Regions from separate parts of the Homo sapiens genome. Here region 1 is linked to region 2. A link means that fine-mapping ties the variant in region 2 to the expression of a gene that starts in the linked region. Tissue or cell type: naive CD4 T cells. Region 2 holds a variant in brackets; the other region holds the start of a gene. All regions are shown on one strand. Distances are from middle to middle.

The links. PIP is the estimated chance that this variant, and not a neighbour inherited with it, causes the effect.
Region 1: MPRIP starts here. The variant in region 2 is fine-mapped to the expression of MPRIP in naive CD4 T cells (Schmiedel 2018, PIP 0.95).

Annotation. Positions count from the first base shown.
Region 1 is chr17:17,038,403-17,046,471 of GRCh38, reverse strand. MPRIP (myosin phosphatase Rho interacting protein) reads right to left here and starts at 4,015. Exons shown (of 24, transcript NM_001364716.4): 1 at 3,501-4,015. The coding sequence starts at 3,623. It overlaps LOC124903938 (a long non-coding RNA gene), which reads left to right and starts at 4,147. Exons shown (of 3, transcript XR_007065644.1): 1 at 4,147-4,201; 2 at 4,564-4,691; 3 at 6,715-7,129. RefSeq lists silencers at 2,023-2,317, 3,991-4,450 and an enhancer at 2,129-3,328.
Region 2 is chr17:17,216,654-17,222,226 of GRCh38, reverse strand. It overlaps FLCN (folliculin), which reads left to right. Exons shown (of 14, transcript NM_144997.7): 8 at 599-690; 9 at 3,018-3,208; 10 at 5,045-5,158. Among named protein-coding and RNA genes, the nearest start is that of PLD6, 13 kb to the right of the region's middle. The variant AG/G (reference allele first, on the strand shown) is at 2,661.

The sequences.
Region 1 (8,069 bases), 180 kb after region 2:
CTGAAAAAAAAAATTTATGCGCTTGATGTCAACCCAGCCATTCTATTTATAGGTATCTGCCCCCAGAGAAATACTTGCATTCATGCATGCACGCACACACACCCAGAAGTATTTATAAGACTCTTTGCCGAAACATTCACTGTATGTAACAGCAAAACCCATAAGCAACCTTGATGTCTATCAATAAGGAAACGGGTTAAATTATAGTACACTCCTAAAGGCCTAATATGCAAAATGGTTCTGGCATCTTTATATGCAACACCATGAAAAGAACGTAAAGATATGCTGATAAGCAGAAAACAAAAAATATGTCGCAGAGCAAATACATGCACACAGTTCAGGATAAAAAGGTTTAACTGTATATTTGAGCTGGGCACAGTGACTCACGCCTGTAATCCCGGCACTTTGGGAGGCCGAGGCAGGCGGATCACGAGGTCAGGAGATCAAGACCATCCTGGCTAACACAGTGAAACCTCGTCTCTACTAAAAATACAAAAAATTAGCCAGGCATGGTGGCGGGTGCCTGTAGTCCCAGCTACTCGGGAGGCTGAGGCAGAAGAATGGCATGAACCTGGGAGGCGTAGCTTGCAGTGAGCTCAGATCGCGCCACTGCACACCAGCCTGGGCAACAGAGCGAGACTCCGCCTCAAAAAAAAAAAAAAAACTGTATATTTGGGTCCGTATGTCGCTGAGAAATGCACAGGAAAACTGGAGGATAAATGACACTCTGTGAACAGGGGCCTGGAACAAGTAATAAAGGACGGTCACTTATCACTTATCCCAGATTACTCCAAATTTCCGTGAGGAGGAAAAGGCAAAGAACTCCACTGCTCCAAGCCAGCATTCTCAAGGCACCTCCTGCAACATAACTATCCCTGACATTATTGTCCTCATCATGTGCTCATGGTGTGGCCACTGTAGACCCTGAACAGGAGTAGGGGAACTAACATTGGCTTCAGAATCCTGGCTCCATCCCTGAACTGGGCAAGTCACTTCCCTTCTCTGGGTTTCAATCTTCTCACCGGTAAGAGGAAGTGGTTACATTAGCTGATCTCCAAGTCCCTTCCAGGTCTGATGCCATAATACAGTCCCTGCAAGAGGTTTCTGTGCCTCTCTAGGGGAAAAACAAACAAACAAAACCCACAGCTGAGGAAATAAACCTCAAACCAAAAGGCTCAGAGAAATGTCTGCTCCTGGGAAGATGACATCTCCAGAGCAAAAGCCGGCCAAGGCTGCCCACCACCTCCCTGGGCCCAGTATCCTCTCCTCTTAAGGAGGGAGTGGCCTCGATGGTGGCTGATGTATCTTCCAGCTTTGACGGTCTAAAATAAGCTCCAGGCTGGGAGGGGCAGCAGGAAGCAGGGGCTTGGGGGAGACTGATGGGAACCGATTGGTTGAGGTTTTCTAATGGAGCCATAAGGATGAGAGTGAGAGGGAGGGCCGGATGCAGAGAGCAGCAGAGAAGGCTGTTGGCAACAGCCCTGAGTCTCCCTCCTCTCTTTTCAAGAGCAGTTTCTTCCTGAAAGATCCCAGGAGGTAGAATGCTGGGCTAACCTCTCCCAGCACAAATAACCCCACTCATTATTTCAGAAACTACCATTCCAGTTGTGCCCTGAAGGTCTCAGGCCTGTTTCAAAACCCACAATTCAACTTTGAATACAGTGAGAGTACAGTATTTTAAGTTTGCCTCTCCCCGTGAATCCAATTAATAATCAACAGATTAAAAAAAATCTTAGCAGATTGGACTCAAACATGCAGATTCCATCCTAGTTTATCTAAGCTTAAGAATTCGAAAACAGCCCCTATGAGGTGTAAATTTACCAATTTTGACAGTTGCTTAGAATAACCAGGAAACTTACAAACCTCTCTCAGAACAACCCTTGCCCAGAAACTTCTTAAAGTGGCAGGTTTTTTTGGTTTGTTAAATTGTAAGAGAAAAAAGTTTCATAAAATATCATTTCTTGCTTTTCACAAATGCTCAGTGAAGGAGGTAAGCCAGGGACCAGGATTCCCAATTTACAGATAAGGAAATTAAAAGATACAGAAGTAAAGGGATTTGTTCAAGGTCACACAGCTGGAAGTGACAGCCAAGACCTGAAGCAAAGTCTCCTAACAACTCCTCATCGCATAAACTGTTTCATCCAAAAAAGCATCCAGATGAGAAGAAGGAATCAAGTTCTCCTTTACACTCCAAAACACCCTCCGAGGTAAATGAGTTCTATCCGTCCCAAGCTGACCGTCCTTAAAACCCTTGGTATCTTAACCATCTATGACTTTGCAGCCTTGAGTGTTTCGTTAAGCTTTTGGGGTTTAGATGAAAGGAATCTTTTCCTGGCAGTTGGAAACCTGACCTCAGAGAAAGGCCCCGTGCCCCAGGCCGTAACCCCTGCCCCACCACCCTACTCCAGTCGGCCATGTAAACAAGTCAAACCCTGGGTGCACTGAAGTGGCATTAAAAACAACCAGGCCCGTTCACTCGTTTTCAGTCTAAGGGGTTCTTCTGCGACAGGAGTGGCTACAACTAGGTCACACTGGACTGGAATGTGAAGGGACTTCCCCTGGCTTCATTCAGGAGGCTGAGAGAAAGCTCTGAAGAGGATGGAGATGATGGCCGTGGGGAGGGTACCGAGGCACATCCCAAGGAGGTGCACACAAGGCTCGGAATCCTGGAACACTAGGAGTTCAAACAGCAATCACTGCAGGGGTTCCCAAGGGCCATGGGGGCTGCAGCCAAGCCTCTTGGAGCCTTTCATCAATACAAATTCCCCATCTCCCCAGTCACTCCAGGGCGGGGGCCCCAGAACTCTGTGTTTAATGGCTATGACTCTAATGCACGTTTGGGAGTCATAACTAGTTCAAAGCCCTGTTTGACAGTTAAGGCTGGGAGACAGAAATCAACTTTCCCGAGGACCCACAGGTCTCCTCACCCCTCGGCCAGTGACCAGGGAACTGGTCCCAGCTCCCCGCTAAACTACGGCCTGCCAAACTAAGTTCAAGAACAAGACCCTCCTCGCCAGATTTGGACACCCCTTCACCTCTCTCCAGTGCTTGACAGTGACGATGATTCAGAATCGGGGCAGGCTGCGTCCCACTAGACGGAAGCCCACAGTCCTCCCCAACAATCCGACCCCTGGGCCACTCTGGCTGGACAAATCCAAGTCCAGTCCCAAGCCAGAATCTCAGGGGGGTCCCGTCAAGCGGCATGCAATCCCTAAGCGCTTTGTTCCTACTAAGCGAAACCAGGCACTTTTGAGTCACCCAAAAAGCATGAATCACACAGCCGGGCAATGGGAACGGGAAAGGATGTTATTTTTCGGCATACTCGAGGATTTTCCCTTTGTCCCAGCTCTGTCAATGCACTTCCCGTCCCCGTCCCCATGCCCCAGGACTCGCGCATTTCCCTGCTCCATTTTTATTTTCCCTGCAGCCCTTGGCGGCGCCCCGGCCGCCGACCCGCGGCTCCCAGAACGGAGGTGTCCGGGCCGGCCCCAGTCGCTCACCTGCGTCAGGTCCTCGTCGTTGAGCAGATGCGACTCGCGGGGCTTGAAGCAGTTCTGACACTTGCTCTTGTTGAAGATGTTGGCCTGGAATTTCCTGCACGGGTTCTCCTTGGCTGCCGACATGGTCGGCGCGGCGGCGACGGCGGCGGCGGCGGCGGCGCAGGCCTGGCCGGCCTGGCGCTCCCGGCGGGCTAGGGGCTCAGCGCGGCCGCGCCGCATCCCTCGCCGGCCCCGCCGCAGGCCCGGCCCGGCCTCCTTCCCGGCGGGCGGTTCGCTGCACGCGCCGAGGCTCCTGAGCCGCCCGGGCCTCACAGCGCGCGCGACGCCCAGCTCCCGCCCGCACCGCCGCCGCCCGGCCGCCGCGGGCCCATGGACGCGGCCTCGGGCCCGCTGCTTCCCGCTGCGGCCCGCCTCTCAGGCTCCGGTCGCCGCCGTCCCGGCTCGTCCGCGCCGCCGCAGCTGCCCTCGGCGCCCCGCGGCCGCTGCAAATGGGACCGGAGCGCCTCACGCACTACGGGGGCGGGCGGGCGGGCGGGCGGGCGGGCGGCCGGGCGCGGGGAGGTGCCGGGGCGTACGGGGCGGGGCCGCGCCCGACGCGATCGGCAGCCCCACCGGCCAATGGGGTTGGCGCGCTCTCGCTAACAAAGGAACCTCTGGGCCAATGGCAGTCGGGGGCGGGACCGAGGGCCGCCGAGCGCAAGGTAAGTTGTGCAGGCCGGGAAGGTGGGGGCGCCGGCATGGGACGTTCAGGTTTGGTGGACTGGCGCCGAGGCCGGCCGGGCTGACAGCTGCAGGGCCCGGGCGGGGGATGCGGGGGAAGGCGGAGCCGACCTCAGGCTGCCTCTCTGCAACCCCCTCGCTCCCAGGCTCGCCTTCCCGCGCCCACGCTGTACACCCAACGGAGGCATCTTCCCCAAGCCCAGCTCGGAGAGGATTAGTTTAGCACCTACTGTGTACCAGGCCCCCTCGTAGGAGTCAGTTAGCGTCGGGAAGGGCTGGATACTCCAAGGGCTCGCTCATTAAAGGTTCGCAACCTCTCCTTTCTCATCCCCATTTTACATAGGAGGAGACTGAGGAGCAGAGAAGTAACAGCGGGTAGTATTTCAAGGGATGACTAAGAGAAGATGTCAGCGGACTTGAAGAGCTGTCAGCTCCATTAGGGGAGATGAGCGAAGGCTGACTCTCTGCCAGGTGCTGAGCTAGGCATTCTTTCCCCCATGATGTGCTTGAGGAAATGAAGGGTCAGACACCTGGAGTAATTTGTGTAGGATCACTCTGCTAGGAAGGGGCCGAGCTGTCACTCCCGTCCTCCATTGTCCAGCCTCCTGGCCAAAAGACAACCTGGAAAAGGCTGTCAAAGGCTCAGGCAGAAGGTTGCAGGAGCCCAGAGAGGGGAGAAATGCGCTCTTTAGAAAAATTCGGGTGGCTTCAAGGAGGAGGGGAAGTTTAAGTGGACAGTGAGAGGGTTGAGTGTGGCTGGAAGTGGAGATAGGGGAAGAAGGAGCAAGAGGGATTGGAAGAGGGCTCTATCACCCAGGCCTTGTATTCCAAGCCCAGGCGTGCACATGTCATCCCACTGGCAGCTGGGAGTCATGGTGAGTCTTTAAACAGGGGGGTGAGCTAACCCAGCCTTCACGGAGGAGGTGACATTGGAGCATGTGGTAGTGGCAGCCACAGCAGCTGTCGCTCAGGGAATGGAGGAGGTTTTAGGAGGAGAAGTAGCAAATGCTTCCAGAGCTGTGTACTTTTCCACGGATCATCTGGTAAATATCCCAGGGAGGTGGATTTCAACTTAGTGTAAGAAAATGCTTTTCCTCAAAAGGGAGCTGTGGGAAGGCAGATCAAAGTCCTTTGGCAGCCTAAGGGGGAAAGCCCAGCTCCACCAGGCAGGAGCTCTGTGGCCTCGGGCAAGTCCCTTAACCTGCCTGGTGCCTCAGTGACCTCATGTACAAAATTGGCATTAATTAATTAATGTGAACATTAAATGATATAATGCTTGTTAAGTAGCATAATGTTAATTGGTGAATCTAGGCAAAAGGTGTTTATTGTACTATTCTTTTTTTTTTTTTTTTTTTTTTTTTTTTTTGAGACGGAGTCTCGCTCTGTCGCCCAGGCTGGAGTGCAGTGGCGGGATCTCGGCTCACTGCAAGCTCCGCCTCCCGGGTTCACACCATTCTCCTGCCTCAGCCTCCCGAGTAGCTGGGACTACAGGCGCCCGCCACTACGCCCGGCTAATTTTTTGTATTTTTAGTAGAGACGGGGTTTCACCGTTTTAGCCGGGATGGTCTCGATCTCCTGACCTCGTGATCCGCCCGCCTCGGCCTCCCAAAGTGCTGGGATTACAGGCGTGAGCCACCGCGCCCGGCCTTATTGTACTATTCTTGCAACTTTTCTGTTGCTTTAAATTTTTGCAAAATAAAAAAGGGACGGAAGACTGACAATTCTGCCCTGCAGAGAATACTCAGAAACTGATAGAAGAGGTGGCCACTGGGGAGGGGAGCTGGGTGGTTGAGAGGTGACCTACTTTTAATTTTCATTGCAATCCCTTTTGTTTCTGCTGAATTTAGTATTGTCTGCATGTACAACTTGTTTAAAAATATATATATACATACATATATATATATATATATATATATATTTTCTTTCTTGATGTCCTGCCCATTCCTCAAGGCCACCTCCCTTAAAGTGCTCAGCATGTTCTGCTCAGGTCAGTAGGCACATCCAGCACCTGCACTGGACTGGAGGGGTCCACAGTAGGGGCGCAAAGAAGAGTTTCATTCAGCAACTCAGAGGCAGCCTGCCCGGCAGGAGCCCACACTCAAGCAAGTGGAGACAAACAGAAACAGGAGACAGAGAAGTTCAATCCGGGGTGTTGTGGGGGCCCACACAGGGGCACCCAGCCCCGTAGGCAGCTTCAGGGAAGGCTCCTGGAGGAGGCAATGCCTAGGCCGAGTCTGGAGCTGAGTAAGACCCAGCCAGAGAAGGTGAAGGGAAAGACACGTCAAACTGGGGCACCAATTATAGAGTCTCAGGCCTTGAAACCAAAGGGTGTGTTCATGAACAGAAGCAGCTTTCTATCACTGGGTAGTTCAGAGAGGCAGGAGTGACCAGCATTGAGAGGCACTGGGAGGAGTAGTGGATGGTGCAAGCCTAGCCTCTTCAGGGAGACAGGTATGGTTTTTGTTGTTAATACTATTTCATCTCCATTTTATAGAAGACACACACGAGGCTCAGGACATATCAGGAACTTGCCTGTGGTCACAATTATAGATCCTACAAGTGAAGATTTGAGCCCACACAGGCCAGCACCGGAGCTGCCTGGGCCAGGGGCAGTCATCAATTTTGAATTTTTTTCGGCTGAGCACTTAGGTAAGGGCTGCTGATCTGGAGAATGAATCAGGGGCAAGGACTGAGAGAGCTGCAGAGGAGAGAGGGTAGCAGCCTGACTAGGATAGGGTCAGTGGGAGGCAAGGGAATGAATTTGGAAAATGTTTAGGAGGTAGAATCAATTAGTTGCGCTCCTCTCCAAAACCCTCACGGTAGAGTGGGGTCTTGGTTGCTACTCCATTTCCCCTGTCTAGTTCAGTGCCTGGCATAGAGCAGGGGCTCAAAAACACCCCATGGGGGTGCAGTGGCTCACACCTGTAGTCCCAGCACTTTGGGAGGCCGAGGCGGGCGGATCATGAGATCAGGAGTTCGAGACCATCCTGGCTAACACAGTGAAACCCTGTCTCTACTAAATATACAAAAAATTAGCCAGGCTTGGTGGCAGGCGCCTGTAGTCCCAGCTACTAGGGAGGCTGAGGCAGGATAATGGCATGAACCCGGGAGGCGGAGCTTGCAGTGAGCCGAGATCGTGCCACTGCACTCCAGCCTGGGCGACAGAGTGAGACTCTGTCTCAAAAAACAAAACAAACAAGAAAAACACCCCATGGGTGAATGGATGAAAAGTCATCGTTCCACCTTGTATTGTAATATCTCCTCCACCAGATTATGAAATCCATACCGACACAGTCTGTGTCTCATAACCTTGGCTTCCCTTTCCAGGGGCCTAGAACAGCACTTTGCATGAAGTTCAATACTCAGTGTAAACATGTAAAGATTCACTGGGCTGTATGCTTTTTTCACTGCATTGTGTACACCTCAATGTATATTGTTTATCTCAAAAAAGCAAATAAGCAAGCAAGCAAGAAAAGGCCGCTCAGGTGAGCCCCAAATGCAGGTAAGTCTTGATTTGTGGCTCTGACTGCCATCCTGGGAAGTTTTCCCTGTGTCCTGTTAGGGAGCAGAATTTACACACAGATACCCAGAGGTAACCACTATTTTGATCTCCATCACCATAGATGAGTGGAATCCGCTGCGAGCTATGCCTGGCTCTTCTCATTCAACAGTATGCCTGTGAAATTCAATCCACACGGCTACTGTATATATCAGTACTTCATTCTTTTTCATTGCTGCCTGGTAGTCCCTTGTGTGGAAATACTACAATTTATCTGTCCATGTTCCCGTGGATAGACATTCAGGATGTTTCCAGTTTGGGGCCATTATGAATAATGCTACGAGTATCTT
Region 2 (5,573 bases):
TAGCTGGGATTACAGGCGCCTGTCACCACACCCAGCTAATTTTTTTATTTTTGGTAGAGACGGGGTTTCACCATGTTGGCCAGGCTGTTCTCAAACTCCTGACCTCATGTGATCCACCTGCCTCAGCCTCCCAGAGTGCTGGGATTACAGGTGTGAGCCACCGCGCCCAGCCTTTTTTTTTTTTTTTAAAGCAAATCTGAGTCGTATCATTCCAGCCATAAATATAATCACAATACTGTGATCATGTCCGACAAAACGGACAGACTCCTGAGTGTTCTCCAGGCTGCAAGCCCTTGTGCAGTTTACCTTTTGTCTCACAAGTGACTGCATTGGCATCGGAGCAGCGCCCCAAGTCTCTCTGGTTTAGAACAGCTCCCCCTTGCATCCCCTCCCCTCCAAGTTCCTCCCATCCATCTATTGAAGGACCTTGGTCGTTGACTTGTGGAACTGCCTGCATGCGGGATCTGGCTGGTTGTGCCCTGCTGGTGTTCTTTTATACCCATTTTTTCTTTAAACTGGTAGGATCAGGGGCTGGGTGAGCGTCAGGTTTGCTTTTTCCTTTGGCGAGAACGCTCATAGCTGGTGCTGTGTTCTCCAGGCTCCTGAAGGCGTGTGGCAGCCGGCTGACCGAGAAGCTCCTGGAAGGTGCTCCGACCGAGGATACCTTGGTCCAGATGGAGAAGCTCGCTGGTGAGGCAGGGGTGCTGTTGCCGGGGCCTTGGCCCGGATGGCCGTGGGGCGGTACCAGCTGTCTGCTCTCCTGGCAGGAATCGCTGAGGGAGGGAAACGCGGCTCTGAATCAGCCCAGAACGAGCCTTCGGGAAGCTCACCCTCCGATCTCGGTGTGATTGTTGTGATTGTTGTGATTTCCTGTCTCGTTTGCCTTGACCGCCATGTGAAAGAATCTGTTCCCCAGCTAGGTGGGGAAAATTCACAGGTGGGCTGTCTGTAGAGAGAACTGGCTGATTAAAGGCTTCTCGTCCCGATTTTGTGATAGCCAAGTGCTTGGCCTGGTCGACGGTCTTTGCTCCTTTACAAATAAAGTGTTCTGTTTCAGTTCGTCCCAAGTTTTCCATGAAGGGCAGTGGTTCCCTGACCTCCCAGGTGCCTGGGCTTCCCCAGGTTCCTGATCTGGGGCTTGGGGCCCTGTGTTTGGGGATCGTGGCACTGTGTGCACCAGCCTGGAAGCACTGGGCCAGTCTTGGCCAAGCTTTCCATCAGGGATGATTTGATCTTGGTGCTACAGGTCTGTGGTACGACCATTGTTCCACACCACATGTCATTAATAATGCTTCCCATGCTTCTGCTTGCAAATGACCAGCCTTCCAAACAGCCAGAGCTGTTTCGAGGTGTTTCTGCAGGCAGGTGCAGGCGTGCCCTCAAATAAGCTTTGCCAATGGAGTCTCAGCAAGAGCAAAACCTGGTCAGGAAAGACAAAGCCTGGGAATCCACCCCCATGCCCTGCAGGTTGGCTGGCCCTGGAGCCATTTATTATAGTGCTAATCATGTTTCTAGGCAGGTGCAGATGGCAAGGGCAGTGTCTTGGTGAGCTTTTTAGCACGAAGAGCCAGGTCTGTCGAAGCCTTTGTGAGAGCTGGAAACGCAGGTGTGCTGGGCATGCGCAGTATGGGGTTTCGGGCTCAGGGCTTGCCCTTTGGCATCAGACAGACCTGGCTTCGCATCCTGGATTTGCTTCTGACGTGCACCCTTCCCTTTGGGTCTCGTGATGTGAAATGGAGATGTTGTCATTTGTGAGGGCTCCATGAAGTTTCGTTGAAATGACAAATACTAATTTCTTCATCTGTGAAATGGAGATAATAGTGCTGACCTCAGAACAGCTGAGAGGACTAAATGAAATGATGTTGGATGTAGCCATAAAGAACGAAGTCAGGCACTGGTGCACGCCTGGAATCCCAGCTCTTGGGAGACCGAGACAGGTGGATTGCTTGAGCTCAGGAGTTTGAGACCAGCCTGAGCAACATAGGGAGGTCCAGTCTCTACAAAAAATATGAAAAGTAGCTGGGCGTGGTGGCGCATGCCTGTAGTCCCACTACTTGGAAGGCTTCGTTGGGAGGATCACTTGAGCCCAGAAGATTGAGGCTGCAGTAAGCCGTGATCGTGCCACTGCATTCCAGCCTGGGCAACAGAGCGAGACACTGTCTCAAATAAAAAAGATGGGAATAGTAGACACTGGGGGCTCCAGAAGGAGGGAGGGAGGGAGGAAGGGGAGGAAGGGCTGAAATGCTTTCTATTGGATACTATCTGGGCATATTACTTCCTGTGGTTCACTGTCTGGGTGACAGGATTCATAGAAGCCCAAACTTTAGCACCACGCAGCATACCCTTGTAACAAAGCCGCACACGTACGCCCTCAAGCTAAAACAAAAGTGGACCGGGAGGCCGAGGTCGGGGGATCATGAGGTCAGGAGTTTGAGACCAGCCTGGCAGATAACGGTGAAACCCCGTCTCTACTAAAAATACCAAAAAAAGTTAGCCGGACATGGTGGCAGGTGCCTGTAGTCCCAGCTACTTGGGAGGCTGGGGCAGAAGAATCGCTTGAACCCAGGAGGCGGAGGTTGCAGTGAGCCGAGATTGCGCCACTGCACTCCAGCCTGTGCGACAGAGTGAGACTCCGTCTCAAAAAAAAAAAAAAAAAAAAA[AG/G]TGGAAAAAAAAGAAACAACGTGTAGATCCTCGAGAACTGTGGCCGACTGGGTGTGTTCCGTAGACACGCTGTTGGCATTTTTCTTACTGATTTGAGTTTTCTCACCAGCAGAGAACAGCTGACGGTCTTTCCATAAGTGCTTCTAAGAGAGATGTGTGGTACCCCGGGCTAAGTAGACAGCAACTGAGCCCTCCCTCCCACCCCAGGGCTCCCAGAGCAACAGGGAGCAGGGAGCATAGGACCTGGCCGCAGCCAGGAATCTACACTGACCGGCTCAGCCCATGAAGTATCTTGGGCTGAAGTCACAGGATGAGACTGTTTGTATCTGTAACTGTCCTTGTCATCTGTCTTGCAGATTTAGAAGAGGAATCAGAAAGCTGGGACAACTCTGAGGCTGAAGAGGAGGAGAAAGCCCCTGTGTTGCCAGAGAGTACAGAAGGGCGGGAGCTGACCCAGGGCCCGGCAGAGTCCTCCTCTCTCTCAGGCTGTGGGAGCTGGCAGCCCCGGAAGCTGCCAGTCTTCAAGTCCCTCCGGCACATGAGGCAGGTAGGCGGCAGGGGCACAGCGCATCAGGAGCTCAGGAGGAGAGCCAGTCATGGGCTGTCCCTGCCCACACGCCTTGCCTCTGGACCCTCCACCTTCAAAACCCTGCAGGAAGTGACTGACAGCCTCCTCGGTGGGTGGCTGAGGGCACAGGGCGTTGGGGGTATTAGCCATAGGATCAGTGCTCCCCTTTCAGTGATGACCTAAGTATCTTCAAAGAAAAGCCCAGATAGTTGGCATCCCATGGTCCTCTAATCCTCTAAGAAGCTCCTAAAGGCATTGAACAGCACTGTAATTGGTTTGGATGCAGCCTGGACCCTGCCCATTGTAAGTGATGGTCTGGCTGGGCGTGGTGGCTCTCACCTGTAATCCCAGCACTTTGGGAGGCCAAGGGGGAGCGGATCACGAGGTCAGGAGTTCGAGACCAGCCTGGCCAACATGGTGAAACCCCATCTCTATTAATACAAAAATTAGCTGGGCATGGTGGCATGTGCCTGTAGTCCCAGCTACTTGGAGGCTGAGGCAGGAGAATCGCTTGAACCTGGGAGGTGGAGGTTAACAGTGAGCCAAGATGGCACCACTGCACTCCAGACTGGTGACAGAGCGAGACTCCATCTCAAAAAAAAAAAAAAAAAGAAAGTGATGGTCATTCTTACAAAAAATTAGGAACAACTTGCATATCAAACCATACTAGTAAACAGTAGCCAAACCATGGAATATGATTAATTAGAAGAAATAAAGCAGGCACTGTGTGTTCAGGGTGATGTATGTACATGTGTGCCTGCCAGACACGACAAAATCTAACAGTGTTGTCTCCAGTTACATCGAGTCAGATGCCGGGAGAGAGGGGTGTGGGTTGCTGGATTACAAGGGCAGGCTGCCTTCTTATAAAATTCTTCTGCATGAATTTTTCCAATGAGCACTGATTCATTAGAAGAGAGTTATTTGTTTTTGAAAATGGAGTGAGACTGATTTCATGGCAGATGTCCTTGGGGCTTCTGGATGTAAACACCCATTCCATCAAAATCCTGCATTTGGCTGAAACCTTCCTTGTCCGTTGCTTATGTTGATGAAGGTTGGAAGGGGTCTGGAATTCCTCTGGAGGTGGGACTACTTTGAGGCTGTTGGGGTTTGGTGAGACATAGTATTGTGGCCTCTCTCTTATGTTGTGTTTCAAAGCTGGGTTTGGCTTCTTAGAAGCCGTGAGACAGCAGGCTGGACTCTCCTAAGGTGTCAATGTCATGGAAGTTAATAACAGGTGGGGTGTGGGGAGAGGCTGTTCTAGGTTAAAGAATAAGGACGTGACAACTAAAAGCCATGATGGGTCCTGTAGTATCTCCTGGATCCAAAGAACAGCAGCCGTCAAGCAGGCAGCAGCCCTGGGCTTGTGCACACGGCTGGATGTCAGATGCGTCCGTCCAGGCACTCCTGGCTGCAGTCATGGTCTCAGCTGTGGAGATGCCCTTATTCTCCTGGGTGCTGCCATGTCGAGGGCCCTACAGCTTGCTTTCAAATGGTTCAGCAGAAAGTGTCTGTAGAGAGAAGGTGAATATTGCACAAAGTTAACATCTTTTTGCTTCAAATTTTTAAAAACAAAACTGGGAGAAAGATCTTGGAGCAAGAGCTTTGGAATCTAGCATTTATGTGCAAACCTGGAACTTCTCTCTCTGCCCCTTTAACCCTGGGCCGGGCACCCGCCTCCCTGAGAAGATAAGTGTCTTTCTCCTGAGCCCTGTCTTTGCTCTACAAAGTTTTATGAACACACAAATAACTTCATGGGAAGGGAGAGAAAAACCATTTCTACTAGTCACGCTGAAAGCACTGCACTCTCTTGTTTAGGTCCTGGGTGCCCCTTCTTTCCGCATGCTGGCCTGGCACGTTCTCATGGGGAACCAGGTGATCTGGAAAAGCAGAGACGTGGACCTCGTCCAGTCAGCTTTTGAAGTACTTCGGGTGAGAACATCTTTTCCTTAGGTGTGCGGCGCAGGGCAGTATTGGCCTGGTGCCTGGCGTCAGGTGGGGATGCCAAGGTGCACCGACTGCCCAGCACAGAACCGCTGTGCACCACACGGTCTCCACTGGGGGCGCAGTGGGCACGGAGACCCGGGTCTGGTCTGATGATGTTTAAATCATCAGAAGGATGCGTGTGCCTGCTGACTGCCCAGGCCTGAGAGGGAACAAAAATGCATATGACACAGTCTTGGTAAAAGCTTCTTTGTGGGATGCGGTAGGAGACAAACATCTGTGCAGGCAAACATTAATATGAGTTAACACCACAGAGCGAGGGGCGGTACAAGCTGGTGTGTGACTGGCGGTCCAGACAAGAGTTAGGGACCTGGTGGTGGAGGACCCTCCCCCCTCACCCCCA